Homo sapiens: one gene and its partners. The protein of the gene in region 1 interacts with the protein of each later gene in a biochemical or structural test. Each region holds a gene or a part of one and is shown in the gene's direction. Other genes may lie near its edges.

Region 1 (4,913 bases):
GTTCGTATTAAGTAAGTAGTATACTAGTAACATGGTCATTATATCAATTTTCTTTTCTAGCAAAATAACCATACTTCTAACAGACAGAGCTGTATTAAAAACTAATTATGGTATACTTGCCCAATCAGAAAATGACTTGAAGGTGCAATTCAGATGTGCAAATTTTCTTAAGATATGTTTTTCCCTCAAGAATATCTGCACTCACGCCTGTAATCCCAGCACTTTGGGAGGCCGAGGCGGGTGAATCACTTGAGGCCAGAAGTTCAAGACCAGCCTGGCCAACATGGCAAAACTCCGTCTCTACTAAAAATACAAAAATTAGCCAGGTGTGGTAACGCAGACCTGTAATCCCAGCTACTCGAATCAGGAGAATCACTTGAACCCAGGAGTCAGAGGTTGCAGTGAGCCGAGATCGCACTCTAGCCTGGGTGACAGAGTGAGACTCTGTCTAAAAAAAAGAAAAAAGAATATCTGCATTCAGTTTTTATTGTATGTTATAATAGTAATGCCACCTTATCTGGCTAGCATTTTATGGAAATCTAGTGTTTCACACAAGCAGATTTCTTAAGTAACTAAATGTGTGTATACTCAAGACTGAAATCCTAGATAATTAGATTTATTTATATTGGAATAGAATCTGAGAAAAATAAATCTGAGAGAGTCTCTTACATGTATATCTTTATTGCCATCTACTTAAATTCGGATCACTTGCTCAAGTTGGGTGGCTACTGGAGTAATATTCAAGTAAGCACAGTATTAATGTACTGTACATACTTTAATATAGTAGTTTGTGATGTCTCCTAACTTTTTATATTATTGATTTTTTATCTTTTCCCAGGGCCTTTTAAATTCCTTTTGTTTAGTTAGGACTATACATTGTATTTTTCACTGGTTGAAGAACTTGAGTACCTAAGTAATTTGGTAACCTCCCATAATCCACTGGTACTGTTCTTAAGATTCAGGTAATTCATGAAGTTAGATTGAAAAACATTTTTTTATTAAAATAGAATTTTAAGACAAATGGTGGTAGAGTGGGTGTTTACACTGTTTAATACTAACAGTTAAATGATAGGTCCACATATATTTGCTTACTTGAGTTGCCTGAAATTCAGTTAGAACATTCTTCAAGAAATAAACATTTTTTAATACCATTGGTTAAATCAATTATTTTTAAAGGCTTTTTGTAGCAGTCGAACCCTTTCTGTGAAGAACATATTCAGAAATCTTGTTTCTCCAGTTCATAAAACAAGCAAAAAGTAGAGCTGCTTTGGCAAAATTTACTTTGCTGTCAAGAAAATTCACCAATGTTAAGTTCTCAGGTTGGTCTTTCAGTCAGTGTGAAACAATGCCTTTTGCTAATCGGGTATATTGGTTAAACATGTCAGGGACTGATGGCAGCTATCACTTAGCAGCCACAATTTGGTCATTTAAAAATAAGCTGATGTCAAGTTAGCAGAAGAAAAGCACCATCGCCACCCCCTTTTTTAAAGGCTAAAACAGTATATGGGTTTTGCCTACTCAGAAATAACAGCGGGAAGATCACTTCAGCATTTGTCTCTTAGGAGAGATGTGCCCTACCAAACATGGCTGAGGTGCAGTCTAAAAGAAACAGACTTACAGTGACACCTCTGCAGATGGGTGACTAATCCAACGACAAGTTGCACATACTTTTAAAGAAAGAACTGTGGAGTATACTTCAAAAGTCCTTGGTGTATTTTCTTGAACCTCACCTGTTCAGCAGTAATGCCTCTGAAAGGACTTTCCTCCAGAACAAGTCCATTTAATTTAGAATCTTTATATTACTCACCCATATACCTTTATTTGTTGTGTTCCTTATGTTAGTACAGTTTCTGCGTCCTTTAATGACAGGAACCTGTCCATAAAGATAAATCATATTCAGTCTCAATTTTTTTTCTTCTATCCTCAGGGAAATTCAGGGCTTGGTTTCAGCATTGCAGGAGGTACGGACAACCCACACATTGGAGATGACTCAAGTATTTTCATTACCAAAATTATCACAGGGGGAGCAGCCGCCCAAGATGGAAGATTGCGGTATGTTTTGCGCTTTTTATTGTGATGCTGAATCCACTTTGTGTATTTTTCTTGAAGCAGACTGGATAAGGGATAAATACAAATAACAAACACGATCATGATAACTAGCATAGGGTAGATGCTTTAACAACATTCAAGTCAATGAATGAGATAATTATGCTCTAAGCATTGTGTTCCTGTTTTCATTTAGACTCCAGTTTTATCTTAGATATTATAACATTTTGAATAACAAATTTGGTTGATGGTTTAAATCTTTGTGAGCATATTTATAGAAATCATGAGTTTCCCTTTGTGTTTTCAGATACACTCACAGAATATTTTCCATTTCCTCTCTGGCTGGGAAACATGTGTATAAACTTATTTAAGTACACTCACAGAATATTTTCCATTTCCTCTCTGGCTGGGAAACATGTATATAAACTTATTTAAGATACGGAGGATAGAGGATCACACATCCATGTTGAATCCCACACCACAAAGACTATATGCAAACTTTAAATAATATATTTTCTTATTGACTAGATGAAAATAACATTTGTCTCTGTTTAAATTTAGTGTTCCATTTTGGAAGATATATTTTGCAAACTTTGATTTTTTGAGGGTCATAAATTATGTCATTTTTCCTATTTCCTTGTTTGTTGTTCAAATACCCTGAAGTTTTAGGACTAAAGAGTTTATGTAGTCTGTTAAAAACAGCATCTTATTTTAAGGACGTTGATGCCTTACGCAGTTTTTGAATTTCTAAGCTTTATAATTCTCACTGGGTATGACAGGTGGTATATTAATGAAATCAAATAGATATAAAAATTAATCATTTGACCATTCATGTAAATGTAGACATTTACTTCCTGATTCTGTTAGATATAGAAGCTTGTCAGGACCAGTTTTAATATTTTAATTATGTTTTGTTTACCCTCTCTACCCAATTTGAGATGACCATCTTTTTTTCCTGGTGGAATACCATGCAATCAAAGAGACCAGAACTAGGGAAAAGGCTAAGACTAGGAACAAATCAGACTTTTAAAAAACATAACACCATGGCAAATTATAAGTTCTTTACCTACGAAACCTTTGAATTAAGTGACCTAATCTTTATATAAATTTCAAAAAATAACTTAATTGTTTTATGTCTAATATATAGGTTGGAATAGGCACTCAGAAAATTATTTTTACTTTATCTCAGTTTTCACACTATCTCTGTGACCTTAAACTCGTGATGTGAGCCTCAGTTTTCTTATCTTTGAATCACAGCTCTGTCACTTATTATCTGGGTGGCCTTAGGAAAGTTATTTACATTCTTTGTGCCTCAGTTTCTCCATCTGTGAAATAGGGATTAAAATATATATTAAGCTTACAGGTGTCATGAGGGTTAAAATACCAAGAAAGTGCCTGGCATGTGGTTAGTGCTAAATAAATGTTTGCTATTTTTATAAAGTGTGTCTTAATGCCTACACAGAATAAGCATGCAGGAAGTATGCAAATGGTAGCTGTAATTATTATTTAACATTTTTATATAATCTATTATTTTCACTATTTCTTTTGTTCCTTTTGCTGGCCCTTGGGAAATGTTTGTATTTGTTTATATTAGTTTTTGATATACTTTCTTCATTTATGTTTTCTGGAATTACTCCAGAATTATTTATAATTCTCTTTACCTTAAAAAAGAAGTAACAAAAAATTGGTAAAGTGGAAAATTTATATTTAAATTATATTTAATTTTTATTTTTAATATTTAATTGTTTTCTCAGGGTCAATGACTGTATATTACGAGTAAATGAAGTAGATGTTCGTGATGTAACACATAGCAAAGCAGTTGAAGCGTTGAAAGAAGCAGGGTCTATTGTACGCTTGTATGTAAAAAGAAGGAAACCAGTGTCAGAAAAAATAATGGAAATAAAGCTCATTAAAGGTCCTAAAGGTATGTGGTAAGTCAAACTAAGATAAATCTTTAAGAAATCTCTGAGTTAAATATACCTATGAACTTTATCTGTGACATACATTCCAAGTACAGTATTAGTAATATTCTACAGAACTTGAGTGGATTTTAATTTCTCCGTTATTTCTACTGATTTTTGTCTTACGTAGCATTTTAGAATATTTACATTTCTACCAAGATTGCAGCATTTGAAAAGTTCCTTTTTTTGCGGGGTTTTTTTGTTTGTTTTTTTGAGGCAGGGTTTTGCCCTGTCACCCTGGCTGGAGTCCAGTGGTGCAGTCATGGCTTACTGCAGCCTCAGCCTCCTGAGCTCAAGCGATCCTCCCACCTCACCCTCCCAAGTAGCTTGGACTGCATGCACACACCACCACACTGGGCTGATTTTTTTTATTTTTTGTAGAGACGGAGGCCTCCCTGCATTGCCTAGGCTGGTCTCAAACTCCTGGGCTCAAGCAGTTCTCCCACCTCAGCCCCGCAGAGTGCTGGTATTACAAGTGTGAGCCACTGCACCTGGCCCAAAATTCTTACGTTTATTGATGTATGCTTTTATACATTTTACTGCAGTGAGCATATATATAAATTTATAAGTTTTTTATGATTTTTATATTCAATATTTGCTCAGCATGTTTTTAAGAGTTTTTAAAAGTAGGGAACAAAATATCTATTTGTTTTATAAGTGGATATGTCCCTATTTGTATTAAGTATTCTTATATTGAAGACTTCTAGCATTAAAAGAGTGAAATATTTGTGTCCTTGAACACTTTGAAGTTTAGTATTGCTATTAACTTGTGATAATCTACAAAATACTTTAAATGCAGGTACACAGGCTAAGTTAAAAGAAGAAGTGTTTATAATATGTATTATGAGCAGTTACATCTGCAGTAAAGGACTGTTAAGATGTGATTGCTGAATTTTTAAAACATTG
Region 2 (4,804 bases), on another chromosome or scaffold:
CCCCTCTGAGGGCAGGGAGGCTCCACCCCAGCTCTGGGTGGACAGTCCTGGGGCCCACACCCAGGGGAAGCCATGCCTAAGAGGGGGCCAGGCCTGGGGGTCAGAACCAAACCACAGGTGCTCCCTGGGACCCCTGGAGGGATGACTGGGCGTCTTCCCAGCTGGGAGAAAACCTGGCCCTGGCAGGGGCGCCCCTTTGTCCTTCAGGAGGCAGGAGGGGGCAGTGAGGTCCCAGGCTCTCTGGCTCTGTCTCCCTCCCCCTGTTGCTGCTCTACGGTGGGGGTTCAGGGTTCAGGGATCAGGGCCAAGCTGTAGGCAGATGTGGAAGGTGTCTCGGTGGCTTCAGTGGGGGCCCCAAGCCCAGCTGGCAGGCCTGGTGACTCAACAATCTGGGATGGGGAGCACGGTACCCTCGCCTCCCCGGCAGGCAATACCCCATAGGGGACCCATTCCCGCAGCTGTCCACGGTGCCTCGCACCCCTCTGCTGCTCTCCCTCCTCAGAAACTGATGAATCGCCTGGTGCAGGAAGATGGGAGCACCACCTGCCCTGGGCGGGAGCACCACCTGCCCTGGGCGGGAGCACCACCTGCCCTGGGCGGGAGCACCACCTGCCCTGGGCGGGAGCACCACCTGCCCTGGGCGGGAGCAGCACGGGCCAACTAAGTAGAGTCTTCATCTGTGAAGTTGGAGGCCCCCTCACCACTTGCCACAGGCCTGTGTTCTGCTCACAGGCACGTGCCCTCATCTTGATGTTTGGGGATGGGGGTGGTTGGGCCCCAGGTAGGGGTGAGGGCCAGACCCAGCCTCTGTGAATGCCAGCGGGAGGGTGGGCTTGTAACATTACATAGAAAGAACAGGCGGCCTTACTGGACCTGATGTCCCGCAAGGCTGGGCTGCAGATGGAGAGCCAAGGCCCACACGGCCTCACTGTCAGGGGTGGCCTCCCCTTGCCCTCTGGAGGGGTCCTCCATTGATACCCCCTGCCTCCTTTGTGTGTGAAGGCACGGGCTTACCAGTGCCTCGGTCCCCGAAGCCCCCGGGTCCGGGAGGGGCCAGTTAAAGCATTCCTGTGGCCCTGGCAGGGTGGCCCTGACAACTAGACTCCTTGGTCCAGGCCAACAAAGGCCTTACTCCCTGGAGCCACCTCAAACCTCAGCACCCAAAGCGGCCCGTTATTTCCATGTTGCAAATGAGAGAAAACAGGCTGGGAGAAGCACCTCACGAGGTCCAGCGGGTGGGCAGCCCTCGCCTCCCCGAAGGTGGGAGCCGCCCCGGCCTCCGCGTCGGGTTCTGGGCCGCGAGAGGGGCGGGGCAGGGGCGCAGGGCTGGAGTCGGTGGCTTTGTAGGGCCCCGCAGGGCGCGGAGCCACCTGGGGAAACGGAAGTTCAGGGAGGGCGAGGCCGTGCCCCACATCCAGGCAGCGCAGGCCGCGGGCCGCTCCCCTAGCCAGGAAGAGCCGCCGTCCGCACCGGGACCGGAGAGGAAGCGGAGGTCTGAAGGGGGACAGGTCGGACGTGGCCTCAGAGAGGGAGGATGTGGGCCCCGGAGCTGAGCCAGGCGGCCGGAACCCCACGGGACCCGCGCGCACCTCCCCACCAAAGGGGCCCCGGCGTTGGGGGGCGAGGGGTCGCTGCCCTGGAGGACGTTGGGACCTGCCGCGCTGCGCTCCGAGGCGGGGAAACGGAGGGACGGCGGGGCGGAGGGGCGAAGCGAGCCTGGACTCCGGGGGAGGCGAGGCCGGGAAGACCCAGTCCCGAGGAGCAGAGGGGGCGGGCCAGCTCCGGGCCGGGGGCGCCGACGGGGCCGGTTCCGGTTGGGGGGGTCCCTGGGCCCGGCGGGGTTGCGGGACGCGCCGTCGGGGAGCTGCGGCCCGGGAGCCCGTCCGGAGGCGGCGCGGGGTCCGGGCGGGGCGCGCAGGGGCGGCGCCAGGCGGTGACGTGCGCGGGGGACGTGCCGCGCCAGCGACCCGAGCACTTAAAGTCGCCCCCGGCGCGGAGCGGACCGGCAGAGGCGGGCAGAGGCGGCGAGAGGCGGCGAGAGGCGGGCTGAGGCGGCCCAGCGGCGGCAGGTAGGCGCGGCCGCGATGCTCGCGCGCGGGCCGGGGCCCAGGAGCTCCCCCGTGCCGGGCAAGGGGGCGACCTCGGGGTCCGCGCTCTCACCCCCACCCCGCCCACTTTGTCCATCAGGTCCGGGGGCGCCCGGGGCATGGACTAGCCTTCTCGACCCCGAGCGGGCCCCACCGAGGGCTCCCGAGAGCCAGCCGCGCCCCTCCGCGCCCTCGCATACCTGGCTGCCCAGTCTCGTCTCCCCCGGTCCGGCCCGGCGCCCACCCGTCGGGCTGCCCTCAGGGGCTGGGCTCGGGCCAGGAGATGGCTGCGCCGGCGGCCAAGCCCGGTCCGGGTATAAATAGCTCGGTCCGCGGTGGCGGGGGGCGCGGGCTATATTTGGTGGGGCTGCTGCAGCCCTCCCTGTATGGGTGGCCTCCCCGAGGGAGTGGGGAGCACTTGCGCTCGGGCCGTGGCGCTTTCCCCTGTTCGCAACACCCTGAACACTCCCCGACCCACACCCGCCCTTGGGCAATGACTAACAGCCCGAGACCGTGCAGGGAAGTGGGGGACCCTCTCCAGAGCCAGGCTGGGCTCCCTGGGTTCGCCCTACCTCCACCCCTGGCCCCCAGCTCGTGGGAAAACCAGGCGCAGCCTTTGGTAGCCTCCCACTTCCTAACCCACGCCTCAGTTTCCCTATACGAAAAGTGGGTTGGTCAGGAGCCTCCCTGGGTGTTGGGCCAGTCAAGAGACAGGAGCCGCAGAGTGGAAGGGAAGCCCTTAGCTCTGGCCGGGGCCTCCAGGGGTGGCTGGAGTCGGTGAGGGACGATGGGGGGAGCCGAGGGGCGGCTGTCCTCCTCTCTGTCCCAGAGGCATGGGCTGAAAGGGTCCCTCTCCTGGTGATGGCCAGAGTCAGGCCTGCTGGGCGGGAAATGGCAGTTGGCCCACCCCAAGGCCCAGGGGCTTGTCCATGCTGAGCACAAGGGTGGGAGGTCTTGTGTCTGTTGGGGCCGGGGAGTCCAAGGTCCCAGCTTCACTGCACAGGCCTGGAAGTCAGGTGGGTGCTGGCCTGACCCTGCTGAAGGAGGGTCTATTCCGCCAGCGTGGTGTGGAGGCGGCTGGGCTCGACTCCCTCATGGAGGGAAGGAACTGAGGAGGTGCTAGGAGGCCGTGGGGGGGTGTCTGCCCCCAGAGAGGCTTTGAGTGCATGGGGGCTCTGCCGTGGCACGTGCAGCGTCTGTCCCCCAGGGCCCCATGGTGTGGACAGAGTCTGGGGTGGGCACCTGGAGGCCTGGTCTCAAGGCAGGCTTGGTAACGACCCCATGTGACCTTGGGCAGGGCCCGCCATCCAGGCCACCCAGAAAGCCATGTGGCCTGCACGATCAGGCCAGACCCCACTGACTGGAGCGGGGCACTTTACTTTGGAGGGGCAGCTACCAGAGGGCTCTATGGATCCCAGCCCAGCCGTCAGGCCGGACGGGTCCCCCCTACTGGCCTGCAGTGACCCTTATGCCAGGCTCGGCTGGCTCAGCGGTGGGTCCTGGGGTGACCTGGCCACGTGGGACAGAAGGGCCTGTGCCGCTCCCTCCAGTGAGGTGCCAAATGTGGGCCACACTCTGGGCCCCAGCGGGGGCCTTCCGGGCAGTGGCGCAGAGCCATTGGAGGTGCCCGGGCCCTGGGGCAGGGGCGGGGCGGGAGCAGACAGAGCTCAGGGCGTCCTCCTAGCGTCACCTGCCCGAGTCAGGCCCATCTGTGAAATGGGCCACGCCGGGCAGCCGCACGCAACGGAACCGAACCGCCGGGCTCCTGCTCCGAGACCCGCAGTTCACGAGTCGACGCCCCCGAGTCCCGAGCCGCGCCCACTGGTCCCACCTCTGCAGCAAGTGGAGTCGGCCCCGCCCTGTGGCTTCGAGGCCCCGACGCCTGGCGCGGCTCCCGGGCTCCGCTGACCCCGGTGGACCCGCGCGCCGGCAATTACGGTAGCGTCCAGTAGGGCGCCTACTGCGGGCAATACGGGGGCTCCTCCCATGGCGCGGTCACGTCCCCCACGTCCCGCGGCTGGCGGGGCGGGGCCGGGCGGAGCATCCTTCCCTCCCCCTCCCCCGGGTGGGCCCCGCCCAGCCTCGACCACCCGCGCCGACCCCCGCCCGCAGAGCCGGGAAGCCGGAACCCGCAGGCGCCCTCCAGCCGTCCCTCCGGCCCGGGCGGGGATTGCGCCGAGGAGGGGCCTCTCCTGGCGAGGGTGGAGTTTTGGGTTCCCCCCTTCGCCCCGCACCTCCCGCCTTCCTGCCTCCTCCCGGTCTTCACCTTCCCCCCCGGGTCCCCACGACGCCCGCTGGGCGGCGGTGGGGTAGGGGGCGCCTCCTGACCCGACTCCCCTTCCAGCCTTGGCCTTCAGGCACTGGCTTTAGGGTGGAGGGGCGGCCTTGCGGGGTCCAGGAGGCCTCGGAGGTGGGGGACGGCGGCTCTGGACCAGCTCCGGCCCCCACCACCTCCCGGCCCCAGGGCGGTGACAGCCTTGCGGAGAAGGGGTCTTCAAAGCTCTGAGACCCCGCAGTGCCAGCTCAGGATTGAAGCCTGCGGCGGCACATGCAGCCTTCCTTTCCCAAAGGGGACTTGCGCCCAGCCCCACTTGGGGCACCAGTGGGGGCTCCTGGCCCTGGCCCTGGGTGGGAGTGGCCAATCCGCAAATGAGGCCTGTGTGTCTGCCCCGCCGGCCCCTGCCGTCGTGATGTAAGCGGACACAGAGCGGCAGGGC
Region 3 (4,220 bases), on another chromosome or scaffold:
GGGCTACGCTTACGGGGTCCTCTGGCACAGAACCCCAAGGCGGGCAACAGCAGGGCCTCCCTGGAGGCAGGGGAGGAGCTGAGGGGTTCCACCAGGCTCAGGGGCAGCGGCCCCCTCCTGAGTGACTCAGGTTCCCTTCTTGCTACTGGGAGCGCGCGAGTGGGGACGCCCGGGCCCCCGGAGGATGGTGACAGCCTCTATTCTCCGGGAGTCCAGCTAGGGGCGCTGGTGACCACGCACTTCCTGTACTTGGCCATGTGGGCCTGCGGGGCTCTGGCAGTGTCCCAGCGCTGGCTGCCCCGGGTGGTGTGCAGCTGCTTGTACGGGGTGGCAGCCTCCGCCCTGGGCCTCTTCGTCTTCACTCACCACTGTGCCAGGCGGAGGGACGTGAGAGCCTCGTGGCGCGCCTGCTGCCCCCCTGCCTCTCCCGCGGCCCCCCATGCCCCGCCCCGGGCCCTGCCCGCCGCCGCAGAGGACGGTTCCCCGGTGTTCGGGGAGGGCCCCCCCTCCCTCAAGTCCTCCCCAAGCGGCAGCAGCGGCCATCCGCTGGCTCTGGGCCCCTGCAAGCTCACCAACCTGCAGCTGGCCCAGAGTCAGGTGTGCGAGGCGGGGGCGGCGGCCGGCGGGGAAGGAGAGCCGGAGCCGGCGGGCACCCGGGGAAACCTCGCCCACCGCCACCCCAACAACGTGCACCACGGGCGTCGGGCGCACAAGAGCCGGGCCAAGGGACACCGCGCGGGGGAGGCCTGCGGCAAGAACCGGCTCAAGGCCCTGCGCGGGGGCGCGGCGGGGGCGCTGGAGCTGCTGTCCAGCGAGAGCGGCAGTCTGCACAACAGCCCCACCGACAGCTACCTGGGCAGCAGCCGCAACAGCCCGGGCGCCGGCCTGCAGCTGGAAGGCGAGCCCATGCTCACGCCGTCCGAGGGCAGCGACACCAGCGCCGCGCCGCTTTCTGAGGCGGGCCGGGCAGGCCAGCGCCGCAGCGCCAGCCGCGACAGTCTCAAGGGCGGCGGCGCGCTGGAGAAGGAGAGCCATCGCCGCTCGTACCCGCTCAACGCCGCCAGCCTAAACGGCGCCCCCAAGGGGGGCAAGTACGACGACGTCACCCTGATGGGCGCGGAGGTAGCCAGCGGCGGCTGCATGAAGACCGGACTCTGGAAGAGCGAAACTACCGTCTAAGGTGGGGCGGGCGACGCGGTAGACGGGCTGGCCACGCGGCTCGTTCCCCCGCTCCTCGGGGCCCTCCAAGGTGTCTCCGTAGTCAGCAGGTTGGAGGCAGAGGAGCCGATGGCTGGAGGAAGCCCACAGGCGGATGTTCCCCACTTGCCTAGAGGGCATCCCTCTGGGGTAGCGACAGACAATCCCAGAAACACGCATAATACATTTCCGTCCAGCCCGGGGCAGTCTGACTGTCGGTGCCCTCCCAGGAACGGGGAAGGCCTCCGTCTGTGTGAAAGGGCACAGCACATCCCAGGTGCACCCTCCCCAAGTACTCCCACCCCGCCTACTGTCCATGCGGCCTCACTGGGGGCCATCAGCCTCACCAGCAAAGCAGAGATGAGAGCGTGGGAACTGTGTTCTTTCCTCCCTGCCCTCTACTGATTTCAGCCCAGCCCCTGCCTAGATCCTAGGTCCCTTTTCCTCCCGAGTTTGGCTGGCACGAGAGCTAGCCCAGCACATGAAGCAGGTGATGTTAAGTCACAAGGTGCTGCTTTTCAGATCCACTATGCAAGAGGGGAGGGTGGGGCCACGTGAAAGGCAGCTCTAGACATCAACCAGTCCTGGGGGAGGGGAGTGGGAACCGGGCACAACTAGGAACAATGCCACCATTCCCACAGGAGTGGTACTTAAACCAGACAGCAGGGTTCAGAGGTGGCACACCGGGACAAAGCTGAGGCCCTGCACCTCAACAGCTGACTGCCAGGTGCCTGTGGGTGAACTGAGGGGAGTAGAGGGAGAGGGCAGGTGGAACTGGGGCAGAATCTAGTCATGCCCTAAAGCTAGTCCTGTAAACAATGGTGCCCCAGAAAGCTGCAGGTGGTGTTTGGAGAAGCAGTTACTTTTCAGTTACAAGACCCATCTCCCTAGTCTCAGCCTTACAACACCACGGGACTAAGGAAGAGCACTTCCTTGCCTCCGTAAGGCCAGAGGAAGAACCATCCCAATCATTTGATCTCCAGCTCCACAGTAGAGAGAAACCTACAAAATGTCAAACCAGCTTCCCGACTCCCAGGAGCTCAAGCCAAGCCCAGAGGCAGTGGCTGGGGTCCCTGCAGGTCATGAGGGGCCTATGCCTTTACTCCTTTTAAACACCAGCACCCGTCTTTTCCCCAACCTAAAACCAACCACCAGCATTTCACTACAGGACCAAATGGAAACCGAGGGAACCCTGGGTCTTGGGAAGAACAACAGGAAACCAAGGTCTGACCTAGGGTTCCCTCCCAGTCTTCACATCACTCTGGCCTCATCACCAAGGTGACAGAGGACACAGGGGAGGGGGAAAACCCACACACACTCCTTGGAATGGGTCCTGTTATTTATGCTTGCTGCACAGACATATTAGAAGAAAAAAAAAAGCTTTGTATTATTCTTCCACATATGCTGGCTGCTGTTTACACACCCTGCCAATGCCTTAGCACTGGAGAGCTTTTTGCAATATGCTGGGGAAAGGGGAGGGAGGGAATGAAAGTGCCAAAGAAAACATGTTTTTAAGAACTCGGGTTTTATACAATAGAATGTTTTCTAGCAGATGCCTCTTGTTTTAATATATTAAAATTTTGCAAAGCCCTTTGAGCTACTGCCTTAGTCTACCCACTGTCCTTTTGTTATGAGGTAGAGGATCTCATGACACCATACACACAAACCCATCATTGCCTGTGAATGCACGTAGGGCCAGAATTCCCCAGTTCCCGCTCCTCTGAGGGTTGATACTGCTGGGAATGCCAACCACTCCACAAGCAGAGGGAAGCCCCCTCAGGCCTGCAGGAGGAGCCGCAGCAGTGTGTCCAATTCAAACCAGCAGCAAAGAGCCTGACATTTTCCCATCCATCTATGAGGAAAGCCATCTCACAGAACATGGACATAGGCAACTTGCTCTCCCACACCAAGGGATGGGAATCTCTCCTACCTATAGTCATCCCTGCACTCCTGACTTTACTCCAGGACCCAGGGTCCAACTAATGGCAGAGCCCCTCTTGGTTCCTTCAAACAAGAAAAGCAATACCTACGGACTGGTGTACACTTCCATCCTTGGTTATAACAGGAATGTTATCAAGCTGTCAGAACAGGATGAAGTGCTCCCAGTGGATATCCATCAGGGAGGGTTAGGGACACTCGTGGCAGCCTGTCTAGCAGCCTGGGCTCTCTGAAAGTCCCTAACTTCCTGAGGGGTACGCAAATACTGTTCTATTTCACTATCAGAAATGTTCTCATCTCCAGTGACAGTGGAGACAGGGGGTACAGGGCAGATCCGCTTCGGGGACTTCAACATGCAGGGTGGCAAGAGAAGGGCAGGACTGGCCGGCCGCTTCCCCTGGGGTAAACCTAAGGAATTATTTCCCACCTCCCCTTCTCCTTGCCCCTGTCCCCACCCCGGTGGCTCCTTCTCTCGGGTCTCCACTTCTGCTGTCCCATCCCGAAAGGCAGAGCGGACCAGTGACTGGCGGTGCTGGAGAAGGTCACCGATGTGCTTCACCACAGACCGTTTGTCAAGTCTCAGAACTCGTAACCAGGCCAGCTGCTCAGCCATCCGCAGCAGCACAGCCAGCAGCTCCTGCAGGCGGGAGGACGCCGGGTAGGGCAGGTCCACATTTGCCAATTTACAAAATCGGGCAAGGGAACATGAAAGCCGATCTGCAGGCTGCAGCGACTGCCAAGCCAGGAAAGTCGCAGCAGTGATGACGGGCAAGGGATGCCTCCCGGTCACCAGCCACGTCTCATTTGCCAGCTCCACCAACTGCATTGTTCGAGACAGCATCTTCTCTTTGTCTTCCACGTATTTGGCTGGCACAGAAGGTGAAGCTTGGAACAGTTTGAAGCTGAAATAACCAAAATGAGGGTTGGATCTTAATGATATAGGGGCTGCTCTCCCACAGTGAGGAAAGACAGCCCACTCAAGATGGGGAAGCTATTCTGCCCTCAGGAATACTCAAGCTCACTGGGCAGCAAGTTAATAAAGGTAGTGAGAGAAAACAGGGCGTCTTCCGCTTGTTAGGGGAAGG
Region 4 (4,206 bases), on another chromosome or scaffold:
AACAACAACAACAAACAGCAACAATGACAACCATTCAGTTGAGTGTCTGCTCTGATGAAGACTTGGTATTAGGTACTTTACATTAAGGATTAAGTTTAATTCTTATCACCACATCATGATATTTAGGTATTATTTCCATTTTACAAGTAATGAAACTGAAGTTCAGAGAAATTAAGTATTGTCTCTAAGACTGAATAGCTAGCAGAGGCAGAACCAAAATTTAAACCTGTGTTTGTCTCTGGCTCTGTTCCACTATCCTGTCCCTCTAGTCTAGCCTGCAGCCCAGAAGACCTTATCTGTCTTCAATTTCTTGTGGCATTTGATGTGTTTCATGTACTAGGAACCATCTTTCTTTTCTTTGCTTTTTTTCTTAGCCACCTGGGAAAGGTCCTTCCTATGCCTTAAACTCCTCTTGGCCAAGGCCAAAGGACCAGTTCCAACCCATAGCTCAGAGAGAGCCTTCCTGTCCAGCTCCAGCTTTCAGCTTCAGGGACTTTGCTTTACCACAGCTGATTCTCAGAGACTATGCTGCTGACTAACACAATGATGATACAATGAAGAATCTCAACATTCAGATAGATAATATAGTGGAGTGGTCATGTCTCTTTCAGACCCGAGTTAAATGTCATTTTGACCATGCAATAATCATAACCTATCTAGTTAATAGGAGGCTCACCTCTTCAAAGGTTAGAAACCTGGATGATATGATGATGCTGCTGGGGAAAACTGAAAAAGAACTAGTTTCAACATATTGAGTTTTAAGGGGCAGATAGGAAATCTCTGTGAGGAAGTCCAGCAGTCAAATAAAAATATGGGCTAGAGTTTAGAAGATATCAGATTTGGAGAGTTTGGGGAATGATTTGCATAGAATATCTGGCTGGAAAGAATGAATGAGATCTTTGAAGCATATGTGAAAGCTACTAAAGGTGGATTCTTAGGATACACATGTGGGAGCTAGAAAGAAGAAGAAGGAAATGGAGAAATAACAGATAGGAGGGATTCCAGAAGGGCAGAGTTTCAGGAGAGTCAAGGAATAGAATATTTCAAGGAAGGGAGTGAGTCAAAAGTATCAAATGGTGCATAAGGGTTAAAGAGAATGAGAACTGAGAAAAAGTTCATCCCTTTAGTCCTTGGAGAAATGTAAGGCAGTAGTTATAGGCATAGAAAACATTATTTGTCTTCCAGGAATAACAGGTGATCTGGTTTGGATAGAACAAAGGTCATTTTGAAAAGTAGTTGAAAATAAGTAGGTTTGGCTGATGAGGTTGTACTCCAGGCAATGGTGGACTATTTTCTCATTCTCTTGCACAAAAAGTTATTATTAAGTCAGTGACCAATACTTCAGATTAATCTTGGGTGGGTATTAGAATAACTTGGTTGGTGGGGGTGGCTAGATGATGTGGAGAAAGGAGTTTACTGCCATGGTTTAGGTGAGAGGTAAGAAGGGAAGCAGCAGCAGGTAAGTACCACATCTCTAGAGTGCCCAACCATCTTGTTAATCTCTCACCAAACCCATCTTTCTTCTCAGGTGAGGATGCTCCCACTGTCACACAGCTGGAGTGCTGTGCCTCTGTGGAGTCCTCCATTCCAGCAGACTCTTCTGACCCAGCATTCCGTTTTTGGGGACTTCAAAAGTTTTAACAGGCCTTCTTCCAGACTCTCAGTAAAATAGAATCTTGTTTGCCATCTAGAACAAGAGATGAGTAATCGGAGTGGGCCAGTAGTACACTTATTTTTCAGGGGATATATATCGATATTTCTGCAACAGCTACCATGGAAGTAATTAGGCTCCAATGACACCATATGCCCACGCCAGTTTGTGAACTAAAGATATCATCCCTGGCATTTCCGTGCCATAACTTTGACTCTCAACCAGCCACTGTTAACTTCCCTCTCAGTCCTAGGTTGAAATCATCCTTGTTTTTAGATGTTATCTTGAAGCCTCTCTTAGTGCCAAATGCTAGACTAAGGTAACTTCTGGCTGGCCCTGATGAAGCTCTTACACCTCTTGTTCCTTGCCCATGTCAGTCCCTCTGGAGTCCCTGGGTGAGGAAGGTACTTACTACCAAACTCTCACATTCTGACCTGAGCTTCAGGTCATTCTTTACTGACTTTGCTGGTTCCCCTGTCCTCTGCCCTTGGTCGTATGATGCAGCTCTGTCTTTCATCCTTGGGGTGGGGAATAGGAGGAGGATGGCCCTTGTCTCTCTAGGCCTCTGGGTTTCAGATGGTCCTTTATCAGCCTGCACTTTTCTTTGTCCTTTCTAAGGTTTCCAGTCCTCAGGAGGCCTGCTTTCTTCCTGATCCTTCTTGTCATGTAGCATATTCTCCAGCCAGTTACAAACCCTACAGTTCAGCAGTGTTTCAGAGGAAAGACCTACCTTCAGCCTCTTAGGTGCTTCTTGGGCTGTCCTAGGAATTTCTTCATCAGGGCATGTGGGTGTTGGCTGCTGGGGGAATTGAGGGAAGAGGAATAAACTGATGAACAAAGGATAGCAGAGATGAGAAATGCAGGAGTAGATGGGGGCATCAGGAATAGCTGACTGGTAATATGGGGATGATAGTTGGGGGTAGGGAGTGGAAGGGGAGAGGAATGGGAATTGACCTTTTCCTTCATCTGACCATCTTTGTAATTCTCACCATGAACCTTCCCTATGACCCCTAAACCAATTGCCCCCTTCTGGTCTATAGGATGTGTCCAGGTTCCAGCAGGTTGAAAGACTTGAGAGTGGCCGGGGGAAATGTCCTTTTGAGCCAGCTCAGCGGTCAGCAGCTGTAATGGCTGGTGAGTGGGGAGAGACAAGAACCTGTAACTTCTTGCTAATTGCCTCCTTCCCCACCCTTGCTGTTAGAATTTCTGTGTTCTTTCTTACCTTGGAATGTCTATTATTCTCATGTCTCTTTTTAGCCTTTCCTGTTCTTCCCTGAGTGCCTGTGTAACCACCTGCTTTTCCCCACCTAGTATGATATCCCCAGGATTCTCTCCACAGAATGTGTCCTCTGCACCTCTAGTGTAATGTTTCCTCTCTTAACCTCATTTTCTTTTCTCATAGTGTTTTTATTCCTGTTAATAAGTGGAATATACTACAATGCATATTGTAATAAATTTGGAAAAAGTATAAAGAAGAACATGAAGAAAACTTCTAGAACAGCACTTTCCAAAAGAACTTTATGTAATGATGGAAATGTTCTACATCTGCACTGTCCAATACAGTAGCCACTAGCTATTGTGGCTATAGAGCCCTTGAAATGTGACTAGTGTGACTGAAGGAAGGAATTTTAAATAGTATTTAATTTTACGTAAATAGGCCTGTGTGTCTAGTGGTACCGTATTAGTGTAATTCTAAAATATCTCTACTTAGAAAATTATTGCTAATATTTTAGGATATTTCCTAATACCCTGTATTCGTCCATTTGTGTTGCTATAAAGAAATACCTGAGACAGGGTAATTTATAAAGAAAAGAAGTTTATTTGGCTCATGGTTCTGGATGCTGGACATGAAGCATAGTGCTAGTATCTCCCTCTGGTGAGGTCCTTAGGAAGCGTACAGTCATGGCAGAGGGTGAAGGGGAGCCAGTGTGTCACATAGTGAGAGAGGGGGCAAGAGAGAGAGGGAGGAGGTGCTTTTTTAAACAGATCTTTTGTGAACTCAGAGTGAGAGCTCACTCATTACTGCCAGGACAGCACCAAGCCATTCATGAAACATCTGCCTGCATGACCCAAACACCTCACACTAGGTCCACCTCCAACATTGGAGGTCACATATCAATGTGAGTTTTAGAGGGGACAAAACATCCAAGCCATATCATATCCTAAATGGATATTAATGTGTGTGCACACCCATGTACATTCATGCACATACATTTGCTGCCAGTCCTTTGTTGCTCAGGGGAGTCAGTAATGACTATTAAATAAATTCCTGCTAGTACTTCTTTTGAACAAGCTGCCTGTGATTCCTCAAGTGTGAAATGATTCTATCACAAACCTAAACCTCTTCTGGAGAATGACTGTCTAATTTATTAGCAGCCACACAGCAAATTTTTTTTGTGCCACATAGCCTGAATTTTAGGTCAGACCACCCAACATGCACCTTCCAAATTCAGTGAAAAGCCATTTTCTTGTGGTAGTGTAAAGCAGGTTAATGGAAATTTTATGAGCATGTGCACAGTATAAAACTTTTAAATGTCATGCTACATGGATGTAAT

What was found. The genes of interacting proteins can lie anywhere in the genome.
Region 2: the proteins of DLG1 (region 1) and SLC16A3 interact in a test that uses a peptide from one of them, tested with the Homo sapiens proteins (2 studies listed by IntAct, with this or other methods).
Region 3: the proteins of DLG1 (region 1) and ADGRA2 form a complex in vitro, tested with the Homo sapiens proteins (2 studies listed by BioGRID and IntAct, with this or other methods).
Region 4: the proteins of DLG1 (region 1) and SEMA4F interact in a test that uses a peptide from one of them, tested with the Homo sapiens proteins (one large-scale study listed by IntAct).

The regions. Positions count from the first base shown.
Region 1 is NC_000003.12:197,137,279-197,142,191, reverse strand, and holds part of DLG1 (disks large homolog 1), read left to right. Parts: intron 1-1,927; coding exon 1,928-2,052; intron 2,053-3,800; coding exon 3,801-3,970; intron 3,971-4,913. UniProt on the Homo sapiens protein: Essential multidomain scaffolding protein required for normal development. Recruits channels, receptors and signaling molecules to discrete plasma membrane domains in polarized cells.
Region 2 is NC_000017.11:82,227,038-82,231,841, forward strand, and holds the start of SLC16A3 (monocarboxylate transporter 4), read left to right. Parts: upstream 1-2,004; 5' UTR 2,005-2,069; exon of another isoform or gene 2,070-4,804. UniProt on the Homo sapiens protein: Proton-dependent transporter of monocarboxylates such as L-lactate and pyruvate. Plays a predominant role in L-lactate efflux from highly glycolytic cells.
Region 3 is NC_000008.11:37,841,177-37,845,396, forward strand, and holds the end of ADGRA2 (adhesion G protein-coupled receptor A2 precursor), read left to right. Parts: coding exon 1-1,179; 3' UTR 1,180-3,313; downstream 3,314-4,220. Other genes in the region: BRF2 (transcription factor IIIB 50 kDa subunit), read right to left, coding at 3,314-4,037.
Region 4 is NC_000002.12:74,660,041-74,664,246, forward strand, and holds part of SEMA4F (semaphorin-4F isoform 1 precursor), read left to right. Parts: intron 1-2,691; coding exon 2,692-2,785; intron 2,786-4,206. UniProt on the Homo sapiens protein: Probable cell surface receptor that regulates oligodendroglial precursor cell migration. Might also regulate differentiation of oligodendroglial precursor cells. Has growth cone collapse activity against retinal ganglion-cell axons.